Linked DNA regions of Homo sapiens: all the other regions are linked to region 1. A link means that fine-mapping ties the variant in region 1 to the expression of a gene that starts in the linked region. Tissue or cell type: whole blood. Region 1 holds a variant in brackets; each other region holds the start of a gene. All regions are shown on one strand. Distances are from middle to middle.

What was found. PIP is the estimated chance that this variant, and not a neighbour inherited with it, causes the effect.
Region 2: it holds the start of ADAR, and the variant in region 1 is fine-mapped to the expression of ADAR in whole blood (INTERVAL, PIP above 0.99).
Region 3: UBE2Q1 starts here. The variant in region 1 is fine-mapped to the expression of UBE2Q1 in whole blood (TOPMed, PIP above 0.99).

The regions. Positions count from the first base shown.
Region 1 is chr1:154,720,024-154,722,778 of GRCh38, reverse strand. All of the region lies in intron 5 of KCNN3 (potassium calcium-activated channel subfamily N member 3), which reads left to right. Among named protein-coding and RNA genes, the nearest start is that of ADAR, 110 kb to the right of the region's middle. The variant T/C (reference allele first, on the strand shown) is at 1,717.
Region 2 is chr1:154,606,655-154,609,154 of GRCh38, reverse strand. It overlaps ADAR (adenosine deaminase RNA specific), which reads left to right and starts at 969. Exons shown (of 15, transcript NM_001111.5): 1 at 969-1,163. The coding sequence starts at 1,149. RefSeq lists enhancers at 1-26, 696-1,085 and a silencer at 1,086-1,195.
Region 3 is chr1:154,557,491-154,559,990 of GRCh38, reverse strand. It overlaps UBE2Q1 (ubiquitin conjugating enzyme E2 Q1), which reads left to right and starts at 1,329. Exons shown (of 13, transcript NM_017582.7): 1 at 1,329-1,764. The coding sequence starts at 1,438. RefSeq lists enhancers at 313-893, 894-1,475 and silencers at 845-934, 1,055-1,144, 1,235-1,314, 1,635-1,734.

The DNA of each region.
Region 1 (2,755 bases):
GCCTGGGCAACAGAGCAAGACTCTGTCAAAAAAAAGAAAAAAAAAAAAAGAAATACTCACTCTCAGACATGATCCTTAGAAGCTCTTGGCCGGGCGCGGTGGCTCATGCCTGTAATGCCAGCACTCTGGGAGGCCGAGGCAGATGGCTCAGGAGGTCAGGAGATTGAGACCTTCCTGGCTAACACAGTGAAACGCTGTCTCTACTAAAAAAAAATCCAAAAAAATTAGCCGGGCGTAGTGGCACGTGCCTGTAGCCCCAGGTACTCGGGAGACTGAGGCAGGAGAATCGCTTCAACCTGGGAGGCGAAAGTTGCAGTGAGCCGAGATCGTGCCACTGCACTCCAGCCTGGGCAACTGAGCGAGACTCCATCTCAAAAAAAAAAAAAAAAAAAATGCTAAGCTCAGTCTATTCATAACATCTCAGTGAATTCTCAGAGAAAGATCCAACATGAAGGAGTTGACTGTGGCATAATTGCAACCTCTTCGGAGTGGGCAATTAGTAGATTTGACAGATAAAAGCAGTCTCTTACCGGTATATGCAACCTTGATGCTTCAAAGACCTACGCAAAACGAAAAAAGGAATTGTAGCTATTAATCATAGAAAATACTCAAATTGTTCTAGTATTTATTCATCCTGTCTTGCTCTAAAGACTGCAGCCTAGCCTTTGCCATGAGAGCCAGCACTATTTTTATTTATTTGTTTGTAGGGAGGGAAGAGGGTCTGATAGCACTGGGTAAGAACTCAATTTCTGCTTTTCTTGAGTCCCATGCTTATCTTCTTTCCTCGTATGACTTATCAACTCTGGTGGCAACGTCATTTCTGTATTTAATTCAATCAGATCTTCCCACACTGACTTCGCAGTGTCACTGCCATTGTTATTCTGTAATTATAACTTATTGCTAATCTCTGGGCTACTAGATAATATTTAAGTACATGATTCACAGAGGGACTGGAAGAAAGATACTAGAGCCCCATCTTTTCTGCCACTTAGTGTTTTCATGTCCCCATCTTTCTGTTTTATGTAGCTAAACAGATCCATCACAGAGGCCACTCCCTGGGTGCCACACTCTGTACTCTGGGGGCACCAAGATGGGTAAGAGGTGGTCCTCACCTCCATCCCTAACCTCTGGTGGCTGACTGCCCTCAGAGAGCACTTCTTCTTATAAGAGGTAGAGTGGGCCGGGTGCGGTGGCTCACGCCTGTAATCCCAGCACTTTGCGAGGCCGACGTGGGCGGATCACTTGAGGTCAGGAGTTCAAGACTAGCCTGGCGAACATGGTGAAACCCCGTCTCTACTAAAAATACAAAAAATTAGCCGGGCATGGTGGTGGGTGCCTGTAATCCCAGCTTCTCGGGAGGCTGAGGCAGGAGAATTGCTTGAACCCAGGAGGCGGAGGTTACAGTGAGCTGAGATCGTGCCACTGCACTCCAGCCTGGGTGACAGAGTGAGACTCCATCTCAAAAAAAAAAAAAAAAGGAAAGAAAAAGAAAAAAAAGGCAGAGTGGGCTGCTATGGACACACTTGGCTTGGGAGGCACCATGGACCGGAGATATTTTCTTTGCGGTACCTACTCTCCACATCAAGCCACAGTGAGCAGAACCTTCAGACAGCACAGTGTGCTAAGGATCCTATCTCCTTCTTGCTGCAGGGGTTTCTTGCCCCAAGTAGCTCACCCAAGTACACTTCCCCATGAATTCAATGAATAAGACCAAAA[T/C]TAAACCCACAACTTCCCTAAACTATTTCCTTCTCCTAACTTCCCTGGTGTGCTCCTGACATCGTGTTCTTCCAGACGCCAGGCCTAAAGACTTAGCCCCATTTCTGACTCCTCTGGACCCTGGACCCCACGAGGGTCTGAGCACTTTCTGTGTCTGATTTCACCTTGCCGTGGCTGTTCACGCATGCCCGCCTCTCCAGGGCCTCGGCCCCGCCACTCTTGAAGCCGCCATCTTCTGTCTCGCACTATCACAGCAGCCTGCTACCTGCTCTCCTCACTTCGGCGTCCCTTACCCCAGTCATCCTGCACTCTGCTTCCCCATGGATCTCCTTAGACTCTCAGGCTTAGCTCTGAACAAATTACTTCCTGCTCAAAAACCTTTAAGTAGTTTCCCCACCTACTATCTCCTGAATGACACTGAAGAAAACTTTTCTTTAATTACAAGCATATGCCAAAGTTTGATCATAATCTTGCTAGAAGAAAATTTTCTTCAGCAGGCTAATTCAAAGATTACTCTTAGTAGTGGTATTTCGTAGGAAAAACAATGGTAGTCATTGTTATGCCAGATTATAGAAGGTTTAGCTAAAGACTGCTAATGGACAGCTGGTTGGGCTCAACAGTGGATTTCCAGAACAAGTCTTCAAGTCTTTACAATGGATCAGATAATCAATAGGGCAGTTATCAGGAATGCTAATTCTCCCCAGAAGAGGATTATAAATTACATCACGCACAAGGTTCTGTCCCAGACAGATTGGGTGCAGGTTTTCTTTAGCAATAGTCACAGAAACAATGTGCGTTTAAGCTGGAAGGACCCTTAGGGAAGAGCCACTCCAACCCACATGAGAAGACGAAGGCCCAGAAAGGGGCGAGGGTGGGCCCCCGGCCTATGCAAGATCCACTTTGCTCTCAGACCATCAGGCAGGCAGCTTTAGGGCGGTCAGTTCCTTGGAACTCAGCATGGGGTTAGGGTCCCAGACCTGCTGAAAAGAAAAGCCAGCTTAACTCCACCCTAACTGAGTATCACATAAATAGCATTATA
Region 2 (2,500 bases), 110 kb after region 1:
CAGACCTGGATTTGGCAGCAGCGTGGCCTTAGTCAAGCCTCGGTTTCTACACCTGCAAAGTGGGAATAATGCCTACCTTGGAGGGCTGTTGTGAAGATTAAGGGAGATAATACATGTAAAGTACTTAACCATTTGCCTGGTGGGGTAGTTTTTATGACCTAGATCCTAAATTGTTCACTGCTGCTGTTGCTACTCTTGGTACTTTTTACTGGCTGGCATCTGCTTGCTTAAGTTTATAACATAGTAGGAGCATTAACAAGGTCCCACGGTGGGGACCTTGGTCGTTTGACGAGATCTGCGCTCCCGCCCATCCCCTCCCCCCCCCCTCCACATTGGAGACGCGGCCACCACCGCGCTGGCGCGGAGAGAGGGAGGACCGGGCGTCATGCTGTTTCTGGCCTGAGGTTTTGTGTGCCTTTGTTTTCCTTTTGCTCTATTCGTGTATTCCTGCCTACGGCCTGTGCGGGGAATTAGGAGCTCAGTACTGAAACGGCGGTTTTCCTAAACAGTACCGGACGGGCGCGGGGGCTGACGCCTGTAATCCCAACACTTTGGGAGGCCGAGGTGGGCGGATCTCTTGAAGCCGGGAGTTCGAGACCACCCTGGCTAACGTGGTGAAACCCTGTTCTTACTAAAAATACAAAAAAAAAAAAAAAAAAAAAGCCAGGAGTGATGGCGCTCGCCTGTAATCCCAGCTACTCCGTAGGCTGAGGCAGGAGAATCGCTTGAACCCGGGGGGCAGAGGTTGCAGTGAGCCGAGATTGCGCCATTGCACTCCAGCCTGGGCAAAAAGAGCGAGACTCCGCCTCAAAAAAAAAAAAAAAAGTACCTTCCGTAGTTCTCATGCAGCGGAGGGGTTCGACTTGTAACCGGCCTGAAACCAAGCGTGGCGCAAGATTTGCTCAAGCCCCTCCTCTTGGCCAAACTTTCCGGAGGGGAAGGCTTTCCGAGGAAACGAAAGCGAAATTGAACCGGAGCCATCTTGGGCCCGGCGCGCAGACCCGCGGAGTTTCCCGTGCCGACGCCCCGGGGCCACTTCCAGTGCGGAGTAGCGGAGGCGTGGGGGCCTCGAGGGGCTGGCGCGGCCCAGCGGTCGGGCCAGGGTCGTGCCGCCGGCGGGTCGGGCCGGGCAATGCCTCGCGGGCGCAATGAATCCGCGGCAGGTAAGCCGGGCCGGCCTTGGACCTTCGCCGCCGTCTGGGTTCGTTTACAACCTCACAGGCTTTGTGTTGCAGTGCGTAGCGTGTGCGTCTTGTGAGTGTTAGAGTGTGTGTGTGTGTGTCGTCTTGCCAAGCAGCATTGCTGGTTTAGGAATTTGTGCGTCTTGTGAGTGTGTGTGTGTGGGTGTGTGTCGTCTTGCCAAGCAGCATTGCTGGTTTAGGAATTTGTGCGTCTTGTGAGAGTGTGTGTGTGTGTGTGTGCGTGTGTGTGTAGTCTTGCCAAGCAGCATTGCTGGTTTAGGAATTTGTGAATTTGTATCCTGCTCATTAATTCTGCAGAATGGAGCAGTGCGTGAAGAGGGCTTGGGGGAAAATGCGCCCCCGTCTGAGTAGGAAGGCCTGAGCCCATGTCAAGGCAGACACATCGTCTCCCTTTCTGCTAGGGCCCCTTGTGGAACCCCCTACCCCCGCTTTAGCCCCACTTGAACAACGTTCGGACTTTGAGCAGCGCACACTATCCTCAGCTCACCTTATCCACCTCCTGAAGGCCTTCTGGGAGTTAAAAATGGCACTTAAGCTGTAGGAGAAAGCTTGTTAACCACTTTATAGCTAAAAACTGGGAAAACACAAATGGCCTTCAGCAGGTTAACAGATAAACTGAAATACATCCACATAATGGGATACTGCTTAGTAGTGAAGAGGAAATACTGTTACAAGTAACAACACGGGTGACTCGCAAGTGCGTTATGCTAAGCACGAGAAGCCAGACTCAAAAGGCTGCATACTGTATGAGTCCATTTATATGACATTCTGGAAAAAAAAAACCACAGTTATAGGGATGGAAAGTGGATCCGTGGGTGCCAGGGACTGGGTATCGTGGAAGAAATTGATTGTTGAGTGGCATGAAAAAGCTTTTTAGGGAAATAGAAATGTTCTATATCTTGATTGTGGTGGCGATTGTCGAAATTCATAGATTTATACACTTAAAAGGATAAATTTTACTGTATCTAAATTATATACCTCAATTTTGTTAAGATATATATATATTTTTTTTTTTTTAAGCACTCCTTTGAAAGGATTAAGGACGCCTAACTTGAAGGAAAAGCATTTCTGCACAGGTGTCAGTGTATTGCACTGTGGAACCTGTGTGGTAAAGGCAAAGGGGGTAGTGCTTATCTCTTGATCCTAAATATGTGAGACCAGATTAAAGTGAAATCTGGGAGGCAATGAATGTTAAATGAGTTGTTATGTAATTTGCATAGAGGTGATGCTGAGAGATTTAGAAAGGATCACTGTGGGTTGCTTGCTCACTTTCTTGCTCTCCTATTCCGTAGCTTTCC
Region 3 (2,500 bases), 160 kb after region 1:
CCTAAACCAGATAAATGGCCCCACGAAGACCAGGAACAGACTATAATCGTCTTTAAATACCCATACCCCAACTTGACCAAAGGAGGCCTCTGCAGAGGCAATTGAATAGTCTTCCAGCAAAGGCTAGCTCATTTTAGTACAAGTGGGAGAGAAACGGGGCAATCTGACCAGTGGTTTAAGGGCTGAGTTGGCCCAGCAGAATTGACTAGGCCTTACCACAGGCTAATAACACTTGCCCTTGGCAAAACGAACGCCAGCTCGGGATTTCTGTAGCTTCAACCAGCTTTGTCCTTTGTGATAGTGCCACCTAGCGAGGGTCCGGAGGCACTACCTACTCCTGGCAGCTGCCAAGACCACTGCGACAAGGTGTTAGCCATTTAGGCCTAGGAAAGGGAATGGGGACCACCCGAGTCAGCACTCCTTCCATGACTCTGTGGAGGAAGCCCATGCTGTCCTTCCCCCAACCTCGTCCAGACCCATGGGGTCTGAAAAGCGCGAAAGGCCTGATATTAACTAACACTTGTACATAACACAGCAGTGATCTATTATCATTCCTCATTTTATGGTGTCCTCGCATCGAATCCCTCCCTGGGAATAGGAAAAACAGGCATCATTCTCATGAGAGCCATTGTACAGATGAGGAAACTGAGACTCGGCGGGAAAGTGGTTAACCCAAGGTCACAAAACGCCATGAGAGCCAGGGCTGGGACGAGAATCCACGCCTCTTCCATTCCGGTTCCCGGCTCCTACCCCGACCACCCACCCGAGTGTGAAGACACAGCATGCCCACCCCCACGGGGAGCAGAGGCTCCAGGATCCTGCGCCGAAGACCAGCATGTGGGAGCAGGATAAAGACTGCACGGGGAAGACAGCACTTCTTTCTTCTCTGTCCATGGAGTGCCGGGCACGCTCGCCACGGCTCGGGGGCGGGGGAAGCGGCGCCCGGGGCAGGAAACAGCGTCCTGCGCGGGTAGCCCCTGGGAGCACGCGGCACCGAGTCACGTGAGAGGGGAGCGCAGGCGAAGGGGCGTCGCGCGCAAGCACGCACGACATACGCAAACTCGCACTGAGGCGCCCACAGAGGCAAGCCCCAGGCCCCGGGTCACATGTGGAGGGTGGCAGGCGAGAACAGGGGGGCGGGAAAGACGGAGAGATCACGTGGAGGAGGCCAGAGCAGGGAAGTCACGTGAGGGGGACGGAGGCGGGGCCGCCTAGGAGGAGGAGGAGGAGGAGGGGCGCGCGGCTTCCGGCGGCTGGGGGGGCCAGCGAGCGGAGGGGGGGGCCTGTCCCGGAGGTGGCGGCGGCGCCATCTTGGCGAAGGGGGGATCAGGAAGTGCGGACCGCGGCGGCGGCGGCGGCGGCGGCGGCGGCGGCGGAGCCCGGAGCGCAGGCCGGAGGCTCCCGGCCCGCCGGCCCCGGAGCGGAGCGGAGCGGAGGATGCAGCAGCCGCAGCCGCAGGGGCAGCAGCAGCCGGGGCCGGGGCAGCAGCTGGGGGGCCAGGGGGCGGCGCCGGGGGCCGGGGGCGGCCCAGGGGGGGGCCCGGGGCCGGGGCCCTGCCTGAGGCGAGAGCTGAAGCTGCTCGAGTCCATCTTCCACCGCGGCCACGAGCGCTTCCGCATTGCCAGCGCCTGCCTGGACGAGCTGAGCTGCGAGTTCCTGCTGGCTGGGGCCGGAGGGGCCGGGGCGGGGGCCGCGCCCGGACCGCATCTCCCCCCACGGGGGTCGGTGCCTGGGGATCCTGTCCGCATCCACTGCAACATCACGGTGAGGACCCCCTCGCGTGCGCCTCTGTGGGGGCCCCTTGTCAGGGACCCAGGATCACTCCATCCAGCTTTTTGCTCTCGAAGGACCTGGGAGGCCGAAGCCCCTCTCAGGGCTCAGTTCTTTCTCTCCAGGTTACATTTGTTTCTGCTGCTTGAGGTTATGCAGTGCACCCAGAATCTCTACCATTGACCCCAATAGCAAGGGACACCCCGACATATGGCGCCTAGACTACCCGTTTCCACGAACCCACCCACATCCCAAGGTTCATGATTTTGGCTCTTTTTGGCTACTCCTCCACAACTTTACCTTGCCACCTAGGAATGCGTCTTTCTTCCCCTTACTCTTATTTCAAGGTTTTAGGCCTCGGCACTGACCCTAACTGCAAAGACCTGGCCTGAAACTCACTGCACATTTCAGCGATGCCCCCTTCTCAGTAGTACCTCTGACTTAGGAGGTTGCCACCTGTGGGATCCCCGCCTAGGCATCCCTCATGCAGACCCTCTTGCTCTCTCAACTTCACCAAGTGATAGTTTGCAATTCATTGACTCCTCTTCCTTCTCTCCTTTGGATTCTTTTTCTGGTGTAACCTCTAACTCTCCTCTTTTTGCCTCAGCTGGTAGCAGTTCTGCCACTCCCCTGCCTGTTCCCTATGGATATGTCCATTTGCCCTGGGTTGTTGCTTTTCCTGGTAATGATAGTGATGTGATGTGCGAGGGCTACCCCCATTTATTCTAAG